Linked DNA regions of Homo sapiens: regions 2, 3, 4 and 5 are each linked to region 1. Evidence: fine-mapped expression QTL. A gene starts in region 1. Each other region holds a variant in brackets. All regions are shown on one strand. Distances are between the middles of the regions.

Region 1 (5,107 bases):
TCAGCCTCCCAAAGTGCTGGGATTATAGGCATGAGCCACTGCACCCAGCCTCCTTGATATGTTTATTTTACTCAGGTAAACTTTTATAAAACAGAAGAAGCCTGAATGTTTTAATAACAACAACAACAACAAAAAGATGCCAGAAAAATTTTAAACATTTTCACTATTTGAATAGATAAAACATTCTGAAATTTTGAATATCAAAAAGTTTAAATATGAATACAATGAAGTCTATTTCTTATGCTTTCCATCTACTGTGTTCTCATACCTCATGTTACTTTGTCCTAGTTTAATGCATATACAATTTAATACAATATTCTGTACCGTATTTCTGTGTTTTTCACTTAACAAAAAAATCTTGGAGATCTTAATGTTAAAACAAAGAACTTTCTGTTTTTTTGATTAACAGCTGCACAATGTTCAAACATATGGCTCTATCATAATTTAACTAGTATCCTGTTGATAGATACTTAGCTTGTTTCCAATCTTTTGCTATTCTCAACAATAAGAAACACCTTGTTATTTCTTATGTGTGGAAACATCTGTGGCATAAATCCCTGGAAATGAAATTCAAGGCTCCGAGTATATATGCATTTGTAATTTTAATACATACTGCCAAATTCCTGTTTCTTTATAGCCCAGCCAAAGTAGTGATGCCAGATATAATTTTGTTTTTTCATTTAAAAATATATAATGAAAAGTAGGTTACTTATTAAAGAACTAGGAAGAAAGTAGGACAAGTTTATGCAAAGTACAGACTACATTTTCACCTAAAAATACATTTAACAGGAATCTATTGTGCATCTACCGTATGCCAAGTGCTTTTAGGCACTTGGGATATACACACAAACAAATCAGACTCAAATCTCTGCCTGTGTGTGGAGCTTATATTTCAGTTCTACATTTTGGAACTCTCTGCTACTTCATAAGAAGCCAGTTAAATGTCAAAATCCTGAAAATGATCTGTTGAAATCCTGAGCACAGGCGCCAGACATATGCTACAAGTGTTATTTAAAAACTAACTAGAGGCAGTGTTACATATGATCATAGCTCTCCATCAGGTTCTTTTAAAACAACACACTAGCGAGAAAGCTCTTTTTATCCGCCTCCATCTGCTGTTGGTGGTGATCAGCATACTGTGGGCATTGTGGTATCATCCGAGATTAGGCTGTGAAATAGGAAGTGGGGTTACAGGCAGATCCGCAAGTGTATGCAAACTGTTGAGTTCTATCTCTTGCTAAAACCAAGGGTGCCCAATTCAGGTTTGGAGAGTAGGGAAAGTAAGGTTATCAGCGCATTCCTATCAGGGTCGTTTTCTTTTTTGCACTGCTCTTGTTCTGGTTTTATAAGGAGAACACAAGCAGAGTCTATGGAAAATAGTTGCCAAAGCATACAGGAAATACTCCTTATACTGAACAAATGCAAGAAAACAGAACGGGTTAGAAACCGAGGGAGACAAAAAGGCAGTGGGTGCCAAGGACTGTGAAAAGCAAATGCAACGATAGAGACAGCACAGTCTCAGGCTTATTTTTCAAAAATTCTCATTGTAAGCCTCTTTCCTTTCTAAATGGAGACTATCTTAACACTTTAGCTCGCATTAGACTTAATTTAATAAGAAGGTTGTAAACCACAGCTGTTAAAGTCTTGCCACTGCCCTACCGGATTCTTCGCATCCTGTAAGGCACAATTCGGAGTTCAGCTGGTTGATAAGGAAGCCAGGCATTGTGGCATCTTCAAGTACGAAGTGAAGCACAGGAAAGAGCCAACTCCGGAGAGTAGCTCTTCATTGCTTGAATCATACATATGCTTGTTTTTTCCCCCCTCTCCTTTCTGGTCTCTATTATTAACAAATATTTCATCCTGGCACAACAGGCACAATCAACAACTGGTTAAGGAATGAGTAGTTACTGAAGTCCCAACGCCTCTCAGTTATTTTTCTCACACTCACTGTATTCTAGACCTAGAAGCCAGCTCTCATTTGAAAGCTGAGGTTCAGAAGGGTGAAGTGCCAATAAATGGCAGAAGCCAGGTCTCTTTCCTGATTCCCATTCCAGCTGAGCTCCTCCTGCCACTGGATCACCATCAAAGACCTGCCAAAGCTGTTACTTCCGGGTTCGGTGCTGCCACAGTGCAAACGGGGATGACTTTGGACAATGACCCTGTGGCCCCCGCAGGGCTCGCACCCTCAGGCCCGTGGAAGGCTAAATGCTGACGGACTGGTTCTGCCCTGGAGCGGCTCTCCGCGTCCCAGGGGTCTCCTCAGTCCCGAGTGTGCACAGCGGGTCCTGCCACGTACCCTGGCGACCCCAGCAATGGACTCAGTGCCCCGGGTCCCTTTCCGTCTCCCTCAGGCGGCGTGCAGCACTTTTTCGGGTGTCCCAGTGGAATTTCCGGGCCCGTGAACGACTGACCCACGCCCGGCCGCAGCTCCAGGGGCCGACGAAGGGAGCGCTAGGGCCCACGGCAGGGCCGTCTTTGCCCGGGCTCCATTCCTGCCACCCTGGCGCTATGTCCGCCCTTCCCTGGTTTTCCCTACGAGCGTTTTTTTAACGCTTCCCACTCCTTGTTTACAAAGTGCTGAGCCCCCTTGACCGCAGGCTCCCGCGCCGGCCCGAGTTCCCACACCGTACGCTGGCTGCCCCCTATTCGGATCCCCGCCGGGCGCCGCACCCCCTAGCCACCCCAGACCGTCCCGGAGACCCGCGCCCGCCCAGCTCGCCCGGGCCATCACGTGAGCCTCCCGCCCCGCCCCCGCGCGTCACGTGAGCCCCGCCCCCGCGCCGGCGCGCTCCGACGTGCCCTGTAACTTACCCTCCCTCAGAGGCCAGCCTGCGGGGACGGGCCGGCCGCGGCCGTAGCCGTGTGAACGCTCTTCGGGCTCGCGTCGTCGACCCGCAGCCGCGGGGCGGACTAAGAAGGGAGCCGCCTGCTGCGAGGCCGCCGGGCTCCCGGTGAGGTGCAGGGCGCGGGTCCTGGCGGACGGAGGGCAGGTTGGCGAGGCGCTGCACAAAGGCGCGCCGGGGCCGGGCTGTGCCCGCCGAGGGCGGTGGAGTCGGGGGGAGGCGTGTGCGGGAGGCGCGGCGGCGGCGGCGGCGGCGCCGCGGAGGTGCGCGCAAAGGGAGGTCGGGCGCGCAGCGAGGGGCTCTGGGCGCGGGGGTTAGGCGCCGAGGGGGAGGGGGCCGGCGCAGCCTATTGGCTGACGTGGGCGAGAGGGTTTAAATGGCCCGAAGTTGTGGCTTCTCTGCCCCCTGGGTTTCCTGACTTCCTGTGTGAGGGCAGCGCCCGCCCGCCCCGCCCCCAGGGAGGAGAGTGTGAGGGTGCGCGGGTGTGTGTGTGAGTGCGGGAGAGTGCGCGCGTGTGTGCACAAGGCGGGTGTGTGCGTGTCTATGTGCAAAAGGCGGGTGTGTGCGCGCGCGTGTGTCTGCAAAAGGCGGGTGTGTGTGTGTGTGTGTGTGTGTGCGCAAAAGGCCGGCCCGGCCCCTCCCGCGCCCTGGGCCCACTCCCTAATCGCGGTGGGGCTTGCAGGCCTCCACCCACCCGGGGAGCCCACCCGGGGAATCCACCTGGGGCGTCCCTCGAGGACTGTTGACCTTAAACCGGACACTTTCTTCTTTGCGGTCTTTCCCGGTGCCCTGCCCCTGCTGGATGGACGTGCATTCGCTCCCCTCCAGCTTATCTGGGCGGAATCTCCTCAAAGTCCTTGAATTGAAAAATCCTCTTTACCAGCGTGCAGCCCGCCTCCCATCTCAGGGGAGCTGGTTGTCTTCTCAGAACGGCTGTCCTTTACGCGTTGCTATCTTAAGTGACTGCAGACCCTTTGAGAAGAAATGGCCACACGGTCTTCGTTAGAGAAAAAGGCACGCCCTTCAGCTTTCGAGGCGTGTGATGTTTTCCTTTTGACTGCAGCTGCAGTTTTGTAAATGTATTTTCAAAGGCTAAAGCACGACGTTGAAAGTACACCTTTATCGAAAGTTTTAATGTCATCCCAAGTGGAGTGTTTGTTGTGGATAGAGGCTTTTAGCACTCTAATAACACGATTGGTTGTGGCTGGCTTTTGGGTTAATCATGACATTGAGAAGTAGATTTTATCGACTATTTAGGCATGCGTTCCTAAAGGGAGGTGGTGGAGGAAGGAAGGCTCACTCGGGTTCTGATTCAGGTTCTGCCACCCGACTTCTAGAGGTTAGACCTTGGGAGACTCCGGGTGTTTCAATGGAAGTGTTAAAAATAAGTATCTAGCCCCTAGCCACGCCTCTTTCATACTTAAAAGTCGGGAACGATGGCCTAGATGTGTGTGTACTTGCCCATATCGCCTTTTCTTTATCTGTAGGAGGGTGTTTTACAGAATCGGTCATCTTCCTCTACCTCCTCTGGTCTGAATAGGCATTTTGGCTATTTTTATTTTGCCTTGGAAACGTTTCAGAGCTGGGTTTTGAGAGCCCAAAGCAGGCAGTGAAAGCGTGACCCCCACCCATGCCACCTGACGAGCCAGACCGTCTGCGCACATATGTGCGACCCCTGGTTGCATGCGGCTCCACTGTTCTAAAAGTGTTTCTCTGTGGGGGAAAAAGAAACCCCAGAAGTGTAATATAATGTGTGTATGTATATTTATGCGCCAATATTTGTTGATAGATTTCTGTTCGTACTTCATCAAGCTGGAGAAGACTGATGACTCATTGATTGTTAAGATAATGCCGTCTGTATAGTTAGTTATATATATATTAGTTGTTCATATATAATTATCAATACATTGCATCTCTTTCGGTTTTATATTTGCTAATACCAGTTGTTTCGAGGTGCAAATGAAAATAGATTAAGTGCTGTAGAAAAACAGCATGTTACTTGTAGTTAATCATTTGACTTTTCTTTAATTAGAAAGAATCTGCTCAGTGGTTTTTTAGTAGGCTGATAGAAAGTGAACTTTACAAATTTTTAAGTACTCTACGTAAGTGATATTACTGAAAATAATACGGGTGATTAAAATTTTTAAATGGAGTAAAAACTAAATAGTGGTGATCTGTTTAACCATTAAACAGTAGTACTAATATTTTACTTACCTGAGAAAATGGGCATCACAGTTTTACAATAAATCATGGGAGAGAAAAGT
Region 2 (5,107 bases), 46 kb after region 1:
ATACTTAACGTGTGTTTTCTTCACAGCTGCTTTCTAAGGTAAAGAGATACTTTATTTTTACATTGAAAAAATAGTTTCCTGTTCCCAGGTTAAGAAGTCAAGGAAGTAGTTATACCTTTTAAAAACTACTAAAAATGATTACATTAAAATTTTGTTGCTCTTGTTTGATTGGTAAATTTTACTTGAAAGAATGACAAACTGATTATTCATACTAGGACATTAGACATTTTCTCAAAAATGAACAGAAGTAAGCCTATCACTTTAAAGAAAATTGTCAATTTTTGCTTGAGGGAATGGACACCCTGCTCTCCAGGATGTGCTTATTTTACATTGTACACCTGTATCAAAACATCTCATGTACTCTATAAATATACACACCTACCATGTACCCCCAAAATTAAAAAAAAATAAGAAAATAATTGATTTTTATTGCATATGATAAAATTCAAGCTTTTTAAAAATTTATGAAGAAATGACATGGTGAGTTTTTTGAGCTCAACTGGAGATTAGAATTTTGAAAACTTAGATTTGTTGTCATGAGCTTACAGCTTCTCAATCTCAAGACTCTTCATGAAAGCAGTGGTGATATTAAAGTTTTTGTTTTGTTGTTTGTTCTTAATGTTGTGTAATGAAATGTTTCAACATTTGGAAGATAAGCGTAACTCAGTGAATGAATGTTCCTCAAGTGACCAGTGTACAGTGGGTAAGAGAGCCATTCACAGTGCAAGGTAGACAAGTGGGTTTTAATGTGAGAAAGTACAAAGAGTTAATTGTTATGATTTTTAGATTCCACATTGCAACTCATCTTTAAGAAACTGCCACTTGTCAAGTTTTGGTGGAGTGTCTGAGAAGAATGTTCACAATAATATGAAAAGGCTGTAAAGTATTTCTTCCTTGTCCGACATATCTATAAGGCCATTGTTTATGTACTTCAACCAAAAAAAAATTGCAAAATATTGAATGTAGAAGCAGATGTGAGAATCCAGGCAATAAAGAGATTTGTAAAAATGTAAAACTGTGCCGTTTTTTTTTTTGGAGGGGAGATTAATCACTTTTTCATAAAAACATATGTTAATATGTAACAGGCTTATTTTTAAATGAACTAATACATAATTTAAGAATTTTTTAGTTTTGTTTTCTAATACTAAATATCAATAGATATGAACTCACACAGATGAATTCTTTGTGAAAATTTATGTCAGTTTGGAAAGAAGTGGTCTTTTAACCATACGTAGAATTAAATTCTTTTTTTTTTTTTTTTTTTAGGTGTAAACATATAATGCCATGTTATAAACTATGCTAATATTCACTTATTGGAACTTTTTTTGGCTTACAAAAAGTTTAGGCCAGGCGTAGTGGCTCATGCCTGTAGCCCCAGCACTTTGGGAAGCTGACGTGGGTGGATTACTTGAGCTCAGGAGTTCAACACCAACCTGGGCAACATGGCAAAACCCTTTCTCTATAAAAAATACAAAAAAAATTAGCTGGGCATTGGGGCTTGTGCCTGTAGTTCCATCTACCTGGGAAGCTGAGCTGGGAGGATCACTTGAGCCCAGGATGCAGAGGTTGCAGTGAGCTGAGATCACGCCACTGAACTCCAGCCTGGGTGACAGAGCAATACGTTGTCTCAAAAAAAAAAAAAAAAGTATTTTACATGAGGTCACATTCCTGAAAGGAAAGCACAGTATGAAAATACTCAGTTTCAAGTTGTGAAAACCTTGAATGTGCAAAAATGGGAATGACAAGAAGTGAGACTTATGTCTCCGGTAAGGATGGAAAGAGGAAGGAAAGATTTCCTGTAGTTTCTGGTCAGACTGTTTTAAATATTTTTGTGCTGAAGTTGGAAAATGGAAAGCTTAAAAATACCTCTACTATGTTAGTTCTTCAAGCATGTTATGCAGTGTGAGAGATAACCTAGTGAGAACTGTTTTCAATACTTTAAGATGAATTGACACCATTTCTCACCTTTTATCTATTTAGTTAGTTGAACTAAAATTTGAAGCAAATTTAGGCAAGGGGATAATTAATGTAAGTCTTAAAAGAGTAGGTATTTCTTTTTTTTTGAAATGGAGTTTTGCTCTTGTTGCCCAGGCTGGAGTGCAATGGCGCAATCTCAACTCACCACAACCTCCGCCTCCCAGGTTCAAGTGATTCTCCTGCCTCAGCCTCCGGAGTAGCTGGGATTACAGGCATGTGCCACCACGCCTGGCTAGTTTTGTATTTTTAGTAGAGATGGGGTTTCTCCATGTTGATCAGGCTGGTCTCAAACTCCCGACCTCAGATAATCCACCTGCCTCGGCCTCCCAAAGTGCTGGGATTACAGGTGTGAGCCACTGTGCCCGGCCCAAGAGTAGATATTTCTTAATGCAGAGAAACCTTAATCAGTTTTCTTGAGGGACAGAATTTTTTGCCCCATTGAATTTTCCTTAGTAAGAGGGATATCTAGTATCTGTTTTACATTTGCCACTTACTAGAAGCTTTCAGTGTGCTAGATAAAATGCAAAGTCTTGCCTAGTTTCTGTTTTTTTTTTTTTTTT[TC/C]TTTTTAAGAGACAGAGTCTTGCTCTGTTTCCCAGGCTGGAGTGCAGTGGTGTGATCTCAGCTCACTGCAGCTTCCACCTCCCAAGTTCACACAATTCTCCTGCCTCAGCCTCCCAAGTAGCTGGGATTACAGGCACGTGCCACCACGCCCACGTAGTTTTTGTATTTTTAGTAGGGACAGGGTTTCACCATGTTGGCTAGGCTGGTCTCAAACTCCTGACCTCATGATTTGCCTGCCTCAGCCTCCCAAAGTGCTGGGATTACAGGTGTGAGCCTCTGCACCCAGCCTAGTTTCTACTCTTAAAGAGCTCATAGTTTTGTGCATTTTGTTCCACTCTCCAGCATTAGCAAAGTAACATAAAAGTTTATTGGCCCTTTCTTTGAAAAATTTGACTTTTTCAGTCATGATTTTTTACTTAGTTCTCCTTATTATATTAGTGTGGAATGTCTCCAGGTCATCAACATTACTTTTGGGGACAAAAAGTAATTACACCATTAGATATCAGTTGCTAAACTCCACTAAAATGGAAATATTGGAAAATCCCAGGTAGCAATTTGGTTAGGTAGGCTCTGGCTACTAAAATATTTTAAACATAGATGTTTATTCTTAGTTTATTTTCATCTGATATAAAAACATCTAGCACTTTGGGAGGCCGAGGCGGGCGGATCACGAGGTCAGGAGATCGAGACCATCCCGGCTAAAACGGTGAAACCCCGTCTCTACTAAAAATACAAAAAATTAGCCGGGCGTAGTGGCGGGCGCCTGTAGTCCCAGCTACTTGGGAGGCTGAGGCAGGAGAATGGCGTGAACCCGGGAGGCGGAGCTTGCAGTGAGCCGAGATCCAGCCACTGCACTCCAGCCTGGGCGACAGAGCGAGACTCCGTCTCAAAAAAAAAAAAAAAAACATCTAAACAAAAATTTTGTTTTTCCTGTTTTTTTAAATTTGAAACACTTATTTCTCCTATTCTGTGAACACTTACAGTATTCTTAATATGCTAGTTATGAATATATTTTACACTGTGGTAACAAAAGTATTTTTTAAACACAGCTCTAAGAAATGATTACTAATACTTGTAGTATTTGGTAGGGACAATATGGATAGTGAGTAATAGTCTGGACTTTGGAATTAAATAGACCTTCCTGGTTTTGAATCTTAGTTAACAACTTCCTCATGGAGAGGAATAGTTAAACTCTAGGGTATTGAGATGATTGGCAAGATAAGTCAGTCAAGTGCTTAGAGTAAATGCTTAATAAATCTTAACAGTTTATTGTTTCTGTTGTTGCTAAAGGAAATTTCATTGCAATAAAATGTTCAAAACTTTGTGGACTTCTATTCGAGACCCCTCAAAAGATATTTTCAGACTTTTAAGGCAGTAAGCAAAAAGTCTTAAAATAAATGTATACTTTGCATATTGCTTTAGAATTGATATTTTATGTTTTTTTTGTGTGTGTTCCGTGTTGGCCTCTTATGTGTCTGTGGGCCCAGGACATTTATTCCTGTTTTTCAGCCTGTGAGTATAATGTTACTGCTTTAGGCAAGTTTTTGTTTTTTTTTAACATGATACTGCCCATTACATGTATATTATATTTGATGGTTAGTCCTTTGTCACTTTTAATATTCTGATGGAAAACTGATGTGGTAAGTTTTTTTTCTTTTTTTCTTTTTTTTTTAAGGAACTCATACAGCATGGGCATATCCTTGTTGTAGTCTCAGACACTCAGGAGGCTGAGGTAGGAGAATCACCTGAGCCTGAGGGGGATAGAGATGGAGGAGGGGAAGGTGGGGGGAATTGAGGTCACTGCAACTTGGTTCACTGCAGCCTTGCCCTCTTGAGCTCAAGTAATCCTTCCACCTCAGCCTCCTGAGTAGCTGGGACCACAGGTGTGTGCCACCACACCTGGCTAATTTTTTTTTTTTTTTTGGTAGAGTCAAAGCTTTGCCACGTTGCCCAGGCTGGCCTTGAACTCCCAGAGCTCAAGCTGTCTCAGCCTCCCAAAGTGCTGGGACTACAGGCATGAGCCACCACTCCCGGCCAGAACTTGTTTTAATATTTAAGAAGTATAATTTACTTAAGTGAATATATGAATATAAAATTTATAGAAATACAATTGTTGACCTGATTGAAGTATTAAAGGTGGAACTTATTAATAATTGCTGGGGATAGTTTGATACAGATAACTTATGTACATTTAGTTATATTACATGAAGTGATATTATTAGGCTGTGTTTCCTAGGTAAACATTTTTCTGAGACCATAACAAGACAGGGCATTCAAAAGTAGAATCTTATTCTTTTTGTTTCAGAAATGTTTGAACCCATTAAATTAAACAAAAGTGTTTTTTTTTGTTATTGTTGTTGTTTGTTTGTTTTTCTATAGAGATGGGGTTTCACTGTGTTGTCTAGCCTGGTCTCAAACTCCTGGGCTCAAGCAGTCCTCCTGTCCTGGCCTCCGAAAGTGTTGGGATTACAGGCATGAGACATTGCACCTGGGCAAAATGAAAGATTTTTGAATACCCAACTTGAACTAGGGACTTTAAGAGCACCATTACATTTTTTCATTCATGTTT
Region 3 (5,107 bases), 58 kb before region 1:
GCTCACCTGGGTTTAGACTATTCCGGCAAAGAATGGCTCCATAGCTGCTACGGCTTGCTTTATTCATTTTCCAGTTTTTAAAAGTAACTTGTTAGTAAAAGTTTTTGGTTGTGTGCAACAGAAAAAGATTCTGGCTAACTTAAGCAGAAAAGGATTTATTGACAGGTTAAGAGGGGCTCATGAACACAGTGGGAGGACAATGACCAGGCTTGGGAAAGGGCAAGGACCAAGGAAGTCCCAGAGGATGGGACACTGTCAGCAGAGTCACATTACCAACCCCACCCACTCCCCACCCACAGTGCTGCCAGGATGCTAACAATGCCCTCCAAAATATCCACCATTCTTGTAGCACAGCCTCTGGGATCAAAGCCTTGTGGCTTCCGTAAGTGAGAGGTGGATATGAGATGTGGAAGCCAAAAATCGCCTTTCTGGCAGAGGGGAATGGATTATTCCACATAAGAAAACCAGGATGTTAGAAGGAAGTGGGCTGATGCTGGACGTGCAAAACCTAATATACGTCTGCTATAAATAATATGTATAAAGCACAAAAGCACAAAATAATGCATGCTTATTGTGGAAAATACATAGTATAGCGCCTTCCTGTATTTTTTTCTAAAATTGGGATATTGTACATATTCTTTTTATTTTATTTATTTATTTATTTTTGAGACAGGGTCTTATTCTGTTGCCCGGGCTGGAGTGCAGTGGTGCTATCTCGGCTCACTGCAACCTCCACCTCCCAGGGTCAAGCGATTCTCCTACCTCAGCCTCCTGAGTAGCTGGGATTACAGGTGCCCACCACCACACCCAGCTAATTTTTCTATTTTTAGTAGAGATGGGGTTTCACCATGTTGGCCAGGCTGGTCTCGAACTCCTGACCTCAGGTGATCCACCCACCTTGGCCTCCCAAAGTGTTGGGATTACAGGCGTGAGCCACCGTGCCTGGCCATATTCTTTTTTTTAAATTTAATTTAAAGTTCTGGGATACATGTGCAGGACATGCAGGTTTGTTACATAGGTAAACATGTGCCATGGTGGTTTGCTGCACCCATCCACCCATCACCTAGGTATTAAGCCCCACGTGCATCATTAGCTATTTATCCTGATGCTCTCCCTCCTCACCCCGCCAACAGGCCCCAGTGTGTGTTGTTCCCCCTGTGTCCATGTGTTCTCATTGTTCAACTCCCACTTATAAGTGAGAACATGCGGTGTTTGGTTTTCTGTTGCTGTGTTAGTTTGCTGAGGATAATGGCTTCCAGTTTCATCCATGTCCCTGCAAAGGACATGATCTCGTTCATTTTTATGGCTGTATAGTATTCCACGGTGTATATGTACCACGTTTTCTTTATCCAGTCTATCATTGATGGGTATTTGGGTTGATCCTATGTCTTTGCTATTGTGAATAGTGCTGCAATGAACATATGTGTACATGTATCTTTATAATAGAATGATTTATATACCTTTAGGTATATGCCCAGTAATAGGATTGTTGGGTCAAATAGTATTTCTGGTTCTAGGTCTTTGAGGAATTGCCACAGTCTTCCAAAATGGTTGAACTAATTTACATTCCCACCAACAATGTAAAAGCATTCCTATTTCTCCACAGCCTCACCAGCATCTGTTGTTTCTTGACTCACATCTGACTGATGTGAGATGCTATCTTATTGTGGTTTTGATTTGCATTTCTCTAATGATCAGTGATATTGAGCTTTTTTTCATATGTTTGTTGGCCACATAAATGTCTTCTTTTGAGAAGTGTCTGTTCATGTCCTTTGACCACTTTTTAATGGGGTCGTTTGGTTTGGTTTTTACTTGTACATTTATTTAAGTTCCTTATAGATTCTGGATATTAGACCTTTGTCAGTTGGACAGATTGCAAAATTTTTCTCCCATTCCTTAGGATGTTTATTCACTCTGATGGTAGTTTCTTTTGCTGTGCAGAAGCCCGCTAGTTTAATTAGATCCCATTTGTCAATTTTTGCTTTTGTTTCAATTGCTTTTGATGTTTTTGTCATGAATCTTTGCCTGTGCCTATGTCCTGAATGGTATTGCCTAGATTTTATTTTAGGGTTTTTATAGTTTTGGGTTTTATATTTAAGTCTTTAATCCATCTTGAGTTCATTTGTGTATAAGGTGTAGGAAAGGGGTCCAGTGTCAATTTTCTGCATATGGCTAGCCAGTTTTCCCAGCATCATTTATTAAATAGGGAATCCTTTCCTCACTGCTTGTTTTTATCAGGTTGGTTGAAGATCAGATGGTTGCAGATTCTGTTCCATTGGTCTATGTGTCTGTTTTTGTA[C/T]CAGTACCATGCTGTTTTGGTTACAGTAGCCTTGTAGTATAGTTTGAAGTCAGGTAGCATGATGTCTCCACCTTTGTTCTTTTTGCTTAGGATTATCTTGGCTATACAGGCTCTTTTTTGGTTTCATATGAAATTTAAAGTCTTTTTTTCTAATTCTGTGAAGAATATTAATGGTAGTTTGATGGGAATAGCATTGAACCTATAGATTACTTTGGGCAGTATGGCCATTTTCACCATATTGATTCTTCTTATCCATGAGCATGGAATGTTTTTCCATTTGTTTGTTTCCTTGAGCAGTGGTTTGTAGTTCTCCTGGAAGAGGTCCTTCACTTCTCTTGTTTTGTACATATTCTTTGTAACCACCTTTTAAAATGTTATTTTATTTTTTTTGAGATGGAGTCTTGCTCTATTGCCCAGGCTGGAGTGTAGCCATGTGATCAAGGCTCACTGCATCCTCTACCTCCCCAGCTCAAGCAATCCTCTGCTTCAGAGTAGCTGGGACTACAGGCATGTGCCATCATGCCTGGCTAATTAAAAAAAAAATTATTTTTGGAGAGATAGGGGGTCTCCCTATGTTGCCCAGGCTGGTCTTAAAACTCATGGATTCGAGCAATCCTCCCACCTTGGCCTCCCAAAGTGCTGGGAATACAGGCATGAGCCACTGTGCCCAGGCTATAATCAATTTTTTTTCACCTAACAATATATTGTGATCATTTTCCATATCATTAACTATTCATCTGCAACATGATTTTTAGTGGTGGTATGGAATTTTTTCTCTGTATTTATTTTAAATCACTTAGGTACTTTCTATTTTACTTTTTATCACTGTAAATACTGCTGGGATGAACATATACTTTTTTTTTTCTTTTGCTTAAGTATATTGAAATCTTACCATGCATCAGGCACTACACTAAAGTGTTTTCTACATTATCTCATTTACTTCTCACAATAGCCCTGTAAGGTAAATGCTATTATCATGTCCATGTTACAGATGAGGAGCGTGCTGCATGGAGGCTGGGAACAATTCGCCTAAGATCATGCAGTGCTGATGCCCCTAATTCACCTGAGGGTCACACTGCAAGTAGATGGCAGAACCCGCTTTAGTGTGAACTCAGACTTGTCTAACTGGGGAGCTCGGCTCTGAGCATCTTAACTTCCTTCCCAAGTAGATATTATTGAGTAATCCATGAATATTTCCTTACAATAAGTCAGAAGTGGAATTGAGGGAGTAAAAGCATTTAATACATGCTGTCAACCTGCCCTCCAGAAAGTTTGCACCAATTTACACTGCCCCCAGAAATAGAGTAAAGTACCTATTTTTGCCTGGGCAAGGTGGCTCATGTCTATAATCCCAGCACTTTGGGAGGGTGAAGCTGGAGGATCGCTTGAGCCCAGGAAGTTTGAGATTAGCCTGGGCAATATGGCAAAAACCCGTTTCTACAAAAACTAAAAAATGAGCTGGGCATGCTGGTATGCACCTGTAGTCCCAGCTACTTGGGAGGAGGAGGTGGGGGGATTGCTTGAGCCTGGGACGTCAAGTCTACAGTGAGCCACGATCACGCCACTGCACTCAGCCTGGGTGACAAAGCAAGACCCTGTCTCAAACAAAAATTCAAAAAAAAAAAAAAAAGTGCCTATACTCTTGGCCCATACCTGCTAGGGATTATCTTCATCAGAATCTTTGCCAGTTTAGCTGGTGAAAAAAGCTATCATGGTTTTTAGTTTTCCCATATTTTGTATTATAGTATAATGCTGGCTACCTTTTATGATGGTTTACTGTGTGTTAGGAGAATGTAAACCCTGAGAGGTTTGAGACTGCTGTCTGTTTTGTTCACTGCAGTACCCCCGGCACCTGGCAGAGTATCTGGTACACAGTAGCCACTCAATAAAAATTTGATAAATAATTGAATAAGTGAGTGTGCTGGTCATTGAGGTCAGCACTTTACACAGATAATGTCATTAGTCTTCACAGCACTCCAAGGCCTTAGCTAGTATTCATACCATGTGCGCAGTCCCCTCTGACCCAATGGGCACCCTGAGGGCCTCAATTTGACCCTCAGGTTCAGCTGCTCCAAAGGAGGATTGCCCATCTCCCTTGATTTCCCTATAATCCCCCAAAATGAATTATTTTCAATTTTTAATTTTTTAAATTTTTTGTAGAGATGGAGTCTCACTATGTTGCCCAGGCTGGTCTGAAATTACTGATTCAAGCGATCCTTTCCCCTTGGCCTCCCAAAGTGCTGAGATTACAGCGATGCATCTGGCCAAAATGTACTCTTTGTACAACACATAATCTATATTTCAAGTCAGATCACCCCATTATATATCTACATTTGGTGAAAATATGCCCATCCATTTCCCTATAATGTAATGGCAGAAACACAATTGTTTTATAAGGCTTTTGATTTAATTATTCAAAAAAGCTTCAATTTAAAATTTAGCTTTGTGGGCCAGGCGCGGTGGCTCACACCTGTAATTTCAGCACTTTGAGAGGCAGAGGTGGGTGGATCACGAGGTCAGGAGATCGAGACCATTCTGGCTAACACGGTGAAACCCCATCTCTACTAAAAATACAAAAAATTAGCTGGGCGTGGTGGCACATGCCTGTAATCCCAGCTACTCGGGAGGCTGAGGCAGGAGAATCGCTTGAATCTGGTAGGCAGAGGTTACAGTAAGCCAAGATCGTGCCACTGCACTCCAGCCTGGGCAACAGAGCGAGACTCTGTCTCAAAAAAAAAATGTAGCTCTGTGACTCTGCCCAAGCCTTCAATGCTTTCACAGTGATTTTCTGCTCCTCACTAAGAAAAG
Region 4 (5,107 bases), 140 kb before region 1:
CTTTTAGGGAACCTTCATTACGGACGCATGATTAATTAAATTACTTGCCATTGGTGATCAACTTGACCTTCAGCCTTTCTCCCCTCCTTGGAAGTTGAGGAATGAGGCTGCAAGTTCCAACCCCCTAGTTTTGTCTTTTTAGGGTCCTCTAGCCACCAGTCATTTTATCCAAATATGAAAGACACTTAAAGGCCAGGGGCAGTGGCTCACGCCTGTAATCTCAGCACTTTGGGAGGCTGAGGCAGGAGGATCGCTTGAGGCCAGGAGTTCCAGACCAGACTGCACAACATAGCAAGACCCCCGTCTCAAAAAACAACAACAACAACAAAATATATATATATATAAAATGACCTGGATGTGGTGGTGCACATGCCTGTAATCCCAGCTACTGGGGAGGCTGAGGCAGGAGAATCACTTGAACCCAGGAGGTGGAGGTTGCAGTGAGCCGCCACTGCCCTCCAGCCTGGGCAACAGAGTCAGACTCCATCTCAAAAAAACAAAACAAAACAAAACAAAAAAACTTACCATGACATTACAATAATTTTAAAAGTATAATGTTATTAGGGAAAAGTGTACTGATGTCTGTAATTTAATTAGAAATGCACCAAAAAGAAGGTGGATCAATGTATGGATAGAATGAGTGATAGCTGTCAGGATACATGATAAAGGGAAGATAATTTCCCACTAGTTTGCATTTATTTCTCTGGAAAATTAAATAATCACAATAATAAGAAGGCACAATAATAATATTTTGTAATGATATGTATCTCAGATATACCTGATATCTTTTTGTTTGGTTTGGTTTTTGTTCATTTTTGATACAGGCCTCTCTATGCTGCCCAGGTCGATTTTAAACTCCTGGGATCAAGGAATCTTCCTGCTTAGACTTCCCAAAGTGCTGGGATTACAGGCATGAGCCACCTTGCCCAGCCTACCTGATGTCCTTACCGTGTGAGATTTCATTTCCCTTTATGCTGAAGTATAAATCATCTGAACCTTCATCCTATATGACTGATAGAAGTCTAATATTTTTATTATTAATAATGATTAACTTTTATTGAGTACTTATTATGTGCCAGGTCCTTTGATTTTTTTTTTTTTTGAGATGGAGTCTTGCTTTTGTCACCTAGGCTGGGGTGCTACGGCACGATCTCGGCTCACTGCAACCTCTGCCTCCCGGGTTCAAGCGATTCTCCCGCCTCAGCCTCCCAAGTAGCTGGGATTACAGCCACCCACCACCATGCCTGCCGGGCTAATTTATGTATTTTTAGTAGAGATGGGGTTTCACCATGTTGGCCAGGCTGGTCTCTAACTCCTGATCTCGTGATCCACCCGCCTCAGCCTCCCAAAGTGCTGAGATTACAGGCGTGAGCCACCGCTCCTGGCTCCTTTGATCTTTAAACAAGAAAACACACAATACACATATACATCTATAAGAATAATCAATAATTTTCAAAGACAGCAAAGAGCAAAGCCATATTTAAGAAAGAAATATTATCCTAAAGAAATCAATTTACAGGAATATAGCTCCTGCAATGAAGACAAATGTTTGAAATACTATGCAGAACAGCATAACCCCTCATTTTGTTGGATCTTTTTATTACAAAATAGAATCTTTCTTACCAAAAAATCTACCATCCTGTTTTTCCAAAAACCAAGAAAGAAAGGAACAGCCTGCTCTCACAGAAAAATCTAAGTCTCCCTTTCTGGTAACATGAAGTGGAGTGTTTGAAATTGTTCAGTTTCTCACAATTGTAAGGATCCCAGGATCCAGATAATCAGGGTAGAGTTATCTGAGCTCCTTTCTTTCCCTTTGGCCTAGAATGGAGACCCCCAGGCTTGAGAGGAGTCTCTGCTGCATTTTCCCCTCACCATACAAGCAAGCCTTTGAGGTCCCAGTTTTGTGTTTTTTTTTCACTTTTCAACATCTTAATAGGAAATTAAGTATCAAATTTTCTGAGCTATATAATTGAAAAATTCATTTGGGATAACAGTAACACTATAAACTTACTGTGAAATTATAATTTTTAAAGTATAGTGTTATATTTAGGGAAAAGTGTATTGATGTCTGCAATTTAATTGGAAAGGCACCATAAAAAGGTGAATCAATGGATGTAAAGAGCAATAAATAGCTGGGTGAATACATGATAAAGAAAGGATAGTGAAGTGTTAATTGTAGAATCTAGGCAGCAGGTATACAGGTGATCACTATAAAATTCAACTTTGCTGTAAATTTTTAAATTTATATGGTGAAGGCATATATAAATAGATTAATAGAATCTTCGAAGCTTTCATCTCAGAAGTCCAGAAACACACCCATGAATATATGGAATCTTGTTGTATGACAGTAGAATCATAAAGTTTTGAGAAATAGTACTTGGATGGGAGAAATAATGAATGATTTAATAAATGGTGCTGAAGTCTGTTCATTTAAAAAAAATTAGATTTCTATCCCAATTAGCCTTACAGTCTAGTGTTTTCCATTGAACTCTAAGTTCCATGACAGCAGAGTCTAGATCTATTTTTCCTCCTATTATAATCCCAGGGCATGGTGTTTAGTAGGTGGTCAATAAATACTTGTCAAATGGTCAAATGAAGAATATATTAATGAAGACCTTAGTCCTGGAAGATATGCTGTGGGTTGTAGGATTCCTGTGATCTGTGCTGTTGCCAGGCATTGTAGGAAAGAGCCAAGCAGCTGAGTCTGGAATCTGTCCACTTCCCTGTTCCTCCTTAGCTGAGCTAAAGCAACTGTCACACTGACTGCTGGTTGCAAATAAGCAAACTTAATGATAAGTGCTATGAGGTTGTCCTAGACTTCATTCAGGGCTGACAGAGCTCCCTTGAAGACTTGCTTATAACTTTGGACTTGCAGGAACAAAGTCTGTAGCTGTTTGCGCTTTCTAAATCTGTAACAAATGGGATGGGTGAGCAGGATTTGGGGTGGGGGAGAAATAATGATGTAGAAATAAATGATTGATCCAAGTTCATTGTATATACATATAATATACATCACATATATATGCATTATAGATGTA[T/C]GTATAAATGTTACATATATTATATATATGTTTGCGTGAAAGAGCGTGTGTGCATAAAGAGATAGCAAAAATTTCTTCCATGAGTTTAGCCAGATCTCACGTACATTTTCCTTATAGCCCTGAAAAAGGAGAGCAAGTTATTTCACAGGGAATCAAATTCGGCAACCGATACTTTGAACTACTTTCACATATTGATTTGATGATTTTGTTGTCAGGACACACATTGTACTTTGATTCTGGTAAGTCATGTGCTTATTCTCAGCACACCACTCATAAAATGAAAAGGCTGCATTTAAATTATAGATACTGCACTTAGAGTTTCCATTTTGACTGCTAAAGTGTGTTTTGTTCCATTGTATGATAAACATTGGTATATACATTTTAGTATAGTTGAACATTTTTTTTTTGGTGGATCATGGGCACAATGCCTCCAAAGCCACAGGGGCTTCCTTTAATCGAGAGACTATTAAAACAAATGTTCTTCTTTTAACATACAGCCATTGAAAAGATGACACATTAAGAAACATGTAAACACTGCAGCTGGTTAATTACAAATTGCACTGCTTGATTTAGTACCTATGCGCTCCCAGGTTTGGGGACCTTAAGAGAGGGGGACAGGGGCCTCCCCTCACCTTTCACAGTTGGATAGAGAAGGCAAGAATGTGGGTACAGTAACAGAAAACAGAAGACCTGGCTTGTGCACAGTGCCTGAGAGAATCAAAGCAAATTCTATCTTCTAGTTCTCCCGGAAGAAAGATTTAAGATGTTAGGAAGGTTGGAAAATGAATGTGTGTTGTCATTTGGGAGACAAAGGAATTGACAAATGCTTCTAGTTAGAATACCAGCTAGGAAAAGGAGGCATACAGAGCTGACCTCATGCTCTGAAAAGGCAAGGAATCCAGAACCTGCCTCCCTAATCCACTTAAGCCCCAACCTTGATCATCAAGGGCAGTGCATAGGTGATCCTGTACGTCACACCTGAACACACGACCCAGCTTAGGGGAAACACCTTGCCTTCTTTGGTTCTGCTGCCCCCAGTCACCCTCCCAGGCCACCCCAAATGCCTCTCCCTCCAGTCTCAGCTCTGATCCGTGAGCCCTGCCAAAGGCCTGAGACTGCACTGATCTCAGAAAACAGGAGTCTTCCTTTCCCACACTAACTGAAAGGTGACACAGGAACCAACCCCTTAACTTTCCAAATTACTGAGAACTCAGACGACCAAATACCGTACCTGTTGGCCAGTGGAGCCTGCTTGGTCTTTCCATAAAGAGAAGGGAAACCAATAGAAGAGTAATGCCTGTCATTTCCAGGGGAGGCAAAAAAGGACAGTAAACTTTACTACTGTAGGCCCCAGCGCAGAGCCATAGAGGGAGATGTGCCTTCCTCTCCAGCATAAAAATAATATTCACAAGAGTTTTGTATATGTGGTTTTTAAACAAACAATAGCAATAGTCCTAAACTTGGGTCAGTCAGCTGGTGAAGGTGACTGGCAAGATTCTGGCAAGCAGAATGATTCGGAAGTTTCGCAGCAGAGTCTTCTGCCGAGGCTCAGGTCTCCCCTGTGTAACCCGCAGGGAGAGGGGTAAGGGGGCTTGGGCATTAGTACAAACAGCCTTGCAAGGTTTCAAAACTAAGCCCTAATTCCCAGAAATGAAATGGAGGTCGAGGAGAGATGAGGGTCCACTCTCAGGGAGGCGGAGGGATCAAGGCCACTTCCTGGGATTGCTTCTTAAGGGAAACAGGCCCTCTTGATAAGGGCTTGTTGGGGCACATGGAGCAATACCTAGAACAGCCCAGACCTTGGGGTTACCAGGTGGAGCCATGTGAAGGGAGGCAGTTGCTATGCACTGATCTTCCTTGGTGGGCCAGGCTGAGCCTCCTGGGTTAGTCGAACATTTTTTAAGTCTACGTAATCCTAAAAGTCAAAAGAATAAGCTGAATAAAAGTGTTGTACAGATCTTTAGTTTTCCTCCAGTATAAGAGAAAGTAAAGTGGATACTTCACAAATATTCTCTGTATCACTGTGTATTATAGAGACTGCGTATTACATAGACAACTAATACAAAAAT
Region 5 (5,107 bases), 130 kb after region 1:
TGTTGAAAAGGAAACTCAACCTTTTCTGTCATAAGGGAAACTGCAATATCCTTGGATGACATCGTTCTGACTGCAGGGGTAACCTGAATTCAACCTGCTTGTTAGGGAACCAGATCTGATGTGACATTTCTGACATCTAGCTACATGTAATGACTGCTGTCTCTGGTCATGCCCTTGTCTCCTGACCTGTTAATATTAGCCAAATTGATTGCCTGAACATTGCCAGTAACAGTGACTGGACCTCCCTGTCGATCTTACCACTCTTGCCAATGCCTGTAGCATATTCAGTTGGCATTAGGTTCCATGAAAGCAGTATCACACAATGTGAGATTGCTGTTTTAAATAATGGGTAGTACTGAAATATCTCCCACTGAATAAGAGGTTGGGAAGAGAGCCCTTCTTTAAGAATCTACTGCAGAATGAGTTTCAGAGTACCAAAATGTCTTAGAGATAGCAACATGAGACTTGATGTTGCGCATTAAATATTTAATTGCTTACAGAAATAAGATGAAGTGAGGGCCAGCAAGGAGAAAATAGAGTCCTTAATGACTATAAACACTGACAAATGAAGACTTAGTACCATTTACAATGGAATAATGAGGAAAACATAGGCGAAAATTTAATGTTTTCAACAGTCATATTGGTGGTATTCTGCCTGGTGTGTATGTAGCATATGATTAAACAAATGAGTACATATTGGATATTTTAATTCTATCGTCTCGAGTCCTTGGCAATCAGGTTTCTAAGAATGGAACAAGGTGGTAAGTTAAAGTAAAAACTTTGTGGTCTTTAATTTGAATTGGGAGTATCAATATGATGTCATGAGATATTTAATCTATGTGTCTATGTGTTCATGTATGTAACTGATCACTGAAAAGGTGTAACAAGAATGACCAACTGGGGGAGCATCCTTAGCACCTGGGTTTTGACCTTGAAATAGAATTTCTCATTAAAAGAAACCAAGGCATTTTGGAGATATGGCTGATTCCAGGTGTGGAGCGGGAAACGTGGGAGATGATCCTGAAAGAATTGTCATAGCAAGGAAGTGATCAAATGTTAGCAGGATCTTGTCAAAAGAATTCTGGAGGCGACTTGAAGTTCCCACTGGCCAAAAATGGACAGTTGGAGCTTCAATAATAATAGTTGGCAATGAATTGAAACTCACTGATATGTTTACACCCATGAATTAATAATATCAAAAGAGGAGGATGAGAGGGAATAAATTCATATCTTCTTGAAAACTGATGATAAAGAGAAAGAATCAAACATTTATTTGGCCTATCCTGTATGCACTTGACCACTAAGTATCCATATGGCAGATGAGGGGAAGTACCTCTATATAAAAGTTTCCGGCCGGGCGTGGTGGCTCACGCCTGTAATCCCAGCACTTTGGGAGGCCCAGGCGGTCGGATCACGAGGTCAGGAGATTGAGACCATCCTGGCTAACACGGTGAAACCCTGTCTCTACTAAAAATACAAAAAATTAGCTGGGCCTGGTGGTGGGCGCCTGTAGTCCCAGCTACTCGGGAGACTGAGGCAGGAGAATGGCGTGAACCCGGGAGGCCGGAGCTTGCAGTGAGCCGAGATCGCGCCACTGCACTCCAGTCTGGGTGACAGAGCGAGACTCCGCCTCAAAATAAATAAATAAATAAAAAGTTTCCAACTAATAATTGAAATTATTATCATCCACTTTATACTCCCCATTGATTTAATAAATCTGTGTATTAAGCATCAATGGCTGCTAGCATCATCAAAAGAGAACTAGATATTACATGCTTCCTGATGGAAGAAAACAAGACCTCTTATGGTCTTGTCAAAGCAATTGAACCTTAAATCTGAATCAGGCTTTGAATGTAGCTTCCAGAAAATATAAAGGATGGAGAGCTACATCCTGCCTATGAAATCAAGAAGACTCAGACCGAGAAACAACTTGTCAAAGGGTCTGGCTTTCTCAACAAATAACACTGTAAGGAAAAGAAAGGATTGGAGAGGAGCTCCATAAACTTGCCTATTATTTTATTTCAGCTGAGACTTGGGCATCATTTAAAACCAATGAAATAGTCAAAACTTAATTCTTTATTATTTTATCATATTTTACTATTATCTCTGCTTTTAAGGTTATTTCACAGATATTAAGGTACCTGTGTGGTGGAAATACTATACAATGGTGTACTTTACACTTTTTCCCAGTTCTACGTTAGTGACATCAAGGTGGTTTGAAATTGGCAGTTTGGTAGTGGCAGTATTTAGACCAAATCAGGGATGGTTTACTGTTTGGTCAATTTGTCTAGACTTAAAAAGGTGATGGGGAAAATGTTAATGCAGATTAAAATTTAAAATGTGTCTGTAGCTGTTACATGGTGAACAACACAAGAAATTGAGGAAATATTCTTCCAGTGTTCAAAAACTATGATCTGATTCAGCAAAGAAGCCAGATATATCATGGACAAATCAGTGAAGTTCTGACATGTGTTGATTGTCTTTTGTCTTATTTGTTAATGTAAATAAAAATATCAACCAACATTCATGCCAGATTACACTTGTGAACCAATTGCAATCACAGGATGGCTAGAGATAGAAGAATTTGGGAAAAATAAAAAGATACTTTGTGAATAAATTGGTTATGTGGAATTAGCAATAAGGAGTATTATCTATTTTATTTATATTAGCTACATTTATTATACACTTATGTATGTGTGTGGATTTTGTGCCAGTTGTTAAACATTTACCAGCTCACCCCTGGAAACATGGCATGTAATAAATGTTAGTTGTTTTTATTAGTAGTATGGCAATAACACGATGCTGGTCCCTGCGAAGGGATAATGTTTCTAAAGACCAAATGTTTGGCAGGAAAGTAAACTGATCAAGATGACTTAAATTTTAAAGATGAGTTAAATTATATATGCCAAGAAAGGCCATCACTGAACTGAAAGAACTTATGTAACAGAAGCACTATGCAATACACAGAAGTCATCTTTACAATAAAGGCTGTTTGGGCCCAATATTTTACTTCCAG[G/T]TATCTATGAAAGGCAGAGCATTGAAAAAATAGAATGAACATCATGTCTTGTTAGAAATTAAATATCCCATAGATGCAGCAGAGGTTACAAAACGAACATGCAGAATTTATAACCATAAAATGGCCATCGATCCATTAGGTCCAAATGAAGTAGATTGAATAGGAAAGACAAGTTGTGTGATACCTAAATAAGACATTCATCTATAAAGAAATCCATAAATCTATGGATTAGGAGAATGATGAGCGTTTAAGTGTTGCTAAAAGGAAATATGTGACACTTAGGATAATTATATGATAACACTCACCTATTTGGAAAGATTTGGATGATGTTTGCTTAGTACGGATTATATTATAACAACAACATACACAGAAATGACCTGTAGGGTTAAGGGCCTTCAACCATCCTGACATCTGCTAAAAGTTGAGTCCTGGAATTGAGTCCCACCTTGTTTATGTTTTCAGAGGGGGAGTAGCTGTGTGCATTATTTTAATAAATAAAGAGCTAGTTGGTGGTCTGGGAATGACAGGATGCCTGGGAGACAGTGATTCCTGTATCTTACAGTTCATAATGGCAAGGAAATGAAATATGGGATTTAGTCAACCATGCATGGAGTCTGATTTCAGCAAACTCAGTGAAAATTCTTATGGCTCAAGAGGTTAAACTGAATTATTTGGAAAAAGTGAGATTTCAAGTACAGACGACCCTCCTTAGATTACACATTGGCAGTTTCAACCAACCAAGGATGGAAAATATTTTTTAAATAGCAAAAATAACCATACAACCATAAAAATGACACAAATAAGAATATGCTATAACAACTATATAACATTTACTTGTATTAAGTATTATAAGCAATCTAGAGATGATTTAACATATACAGATGTACAGAGGATGTGACTAGGTTATAGGCAGATACATTATTTTATATAAGGGACTTGGGCATCTGCAGATTGGGTCCTGGAACCAATCTCCAACAAATGTTGAGGGACAACTGTATACAAATAATGAAAGGCCAAGTGGGAAGAGACAGAAACTGAAATAACTGGTATGCTTGCATAGGAAGACCTCTGGTGAACACAGATTCCAAGGGATGAACTAAAGTTGACTGTGTGGAGCACATAAACTGATCATAAAAGAGTAAAAGTTTATAAAAATATTAGGAAGGTTAAAATTCCTAGTGAACTTTCAGAAAATGCTAGTCAACAAAGAATGCCATTAAATTATATTCAGATCCAGAAGTATGAGAAATGCTACATCTCCAATGAGCAGAATTTTATTTTATTTTATTTTATATTTTATTTTATTTTATTTTTTAAGACAGAGTCTCACTCTGTTGCCCAGGCTGGAGTGCAGTGGCATGATATCTGCTCACTGCAACCTCTGCCTCCGGGGTTCAAGTGATTCTCCTGCCTCAGCCTCCCAAGTAGCTGGGATTATAGGAGCCAGCCATCACACCCGGCTAATTTTTCTATTTTTAGTAGAGACAACGTTTCACCATGTTGCCCAGTCTGGTCTCGAACTCCTGGCCTCAAATTTTCCACCCACCTCATCCTCCCAAAGTGCTGGGATTACAGGCGTGAGCCACTGTCCCCAGCCAGAATTATCTTAAAACAGGGAAGGATAAAATAAATAATGTAGAGATGGGATAAAAAAGCAAAGAACAGCTATGGAAAGAAATGAAAAGTTTTCAATGCATCTGTCTCCAGGGCGAGGCCAACTACATTTTAGTATGTTTCTGCTTCTTGAAGAAATTGCAGATGGAATCCCAGAGCATGTGTCAATGATGTTTGGTAAATAATAGAGGAAATATTCAGAAGCATCAAGGTGAATACTTTTTTTCCAGTATAGAAAAAAGGTTTGCTCAATGGAAAGTATGCTACATATCCAATCTTAGATTCAGCAAAGCCTGTGGCAAAATTGCACATAATATCTTACGGATAAGGAGATAAAAACTTCAGCTTCTGGTACTTTTAAAGAAATACACAGCTGTCAAATAACTGTTGAGAGTGTTGATAAGTGGCTTGGTGGTATACTATGAGAATAATTGAGTGGTCCAAGACTTTGTCTTAATACCATGGTATTAAAACTTT

Alleles and levels. Positions count from the first base shown, and alleles are read on the strand shown. Sizes are in standard deviations (SD) of each study's normalised expression. Not every link is listed here.
With allele C in place of TC in region 2, the expression in fibroblasts of the gene that starts at base 2,803 in region 1 is lower (moderate effect, 0.50 SD a copy in GENCORD).

What was found. PIP is the estimated chance that this variant, and not a neighbour inherited with it, causes the effect. A credible set is the group of variants that fine-mapping cannot tell apart.
Region 2: its variant is the best candidate, but not a certain one, in a credible set for the expression of ARHGAP12 in fibroblasts (GENCORD, PIP 0.57).
Region 3: its variant is the best candidate, but not a certain one, in a credible set for the expression of ARHGAP12 in whole blood (INTERVAL, PIP 0.64).
Region 4: its variant is the best candidate, but not a certain one, in a credible set for the expression of ARHGAP12 in whole blood (TOPMed, PIP 0.84).
Region 5: its variant is the best candidate, but not a certain one, in a credible set for the expression of ARHGAP12 in lung (TOPMed, PIP 0.62).

The regions. Positions count from the first base shown.
Region 1 is chr10:31,926,527-31,931,633 of GRCh38, reverse strand. ARHGAP12 (Rho GTPase activating protein 12) reads left to right here and starts at 2,803. Exons shown (of 20, transcript NM_018287.7): 1 at 2,803-2,951. LOC107984219 (a long non-coding RNA gene) reads right to left here. Exons shown (of 3, transcript XR_001747415.2): 1 at 3,591-5,107; 2 at 2,812-2,972. RefSeq lists a silencer at 2,632-3,131.
Region 2 is chr10:31,880,252-31,885,358 of GRCh38, reverse strand. All of the region lies in intron 3 of ARHGAP12 (Rho GTPase activating protein 12), which reads left to right. Among named protein-coding and RNA genes, the nearest start is that of ARHGAP12, 46 kb to the left of the region's middle. The variant TC/C (reference allele first, on the strand shown) is at 2,538.
Region 3 is chr10:31,984,494-31,989,600 of GRCh38, reverse strand. All of the region lies in intron 2 of LOC107984219 (a long non-coding RNA gene), which reads right to left. All of the region lies in intron 2 of LOC105376485 (a long non-coding RNA gene), which reads left to right. It also overlaps the pseudogene RPL34P19. Among named protein-coding and RNA genes, the nearest start is that of ARHGAP12, 58 kb to the right of the region's middle. The variant C/T (reference allele first, on the strand shown) is at 2,300.
Region 4 is chr10:32,071,481-32,076,587 of GRCh38, reverse strand. No RefSeq gene overlaps it. Among named protein-coding and RNA genes, the nearest start is that of KIF5B, 18 kb to the right of the region's middle. The variant T/C (reference allele first, on the strand shown) is at 3,039.
Region 5 is chr10:31,794,475-31,799,581 of GRCh38, reverse strand. No RefSeq gene overlaps it. Among named protein-coding and RNA genes, the nearest start is that of MACORIS, 90 kb to the right of the region's middle. The variant G/T (reference allele first, on the strand shown) is at 3,017.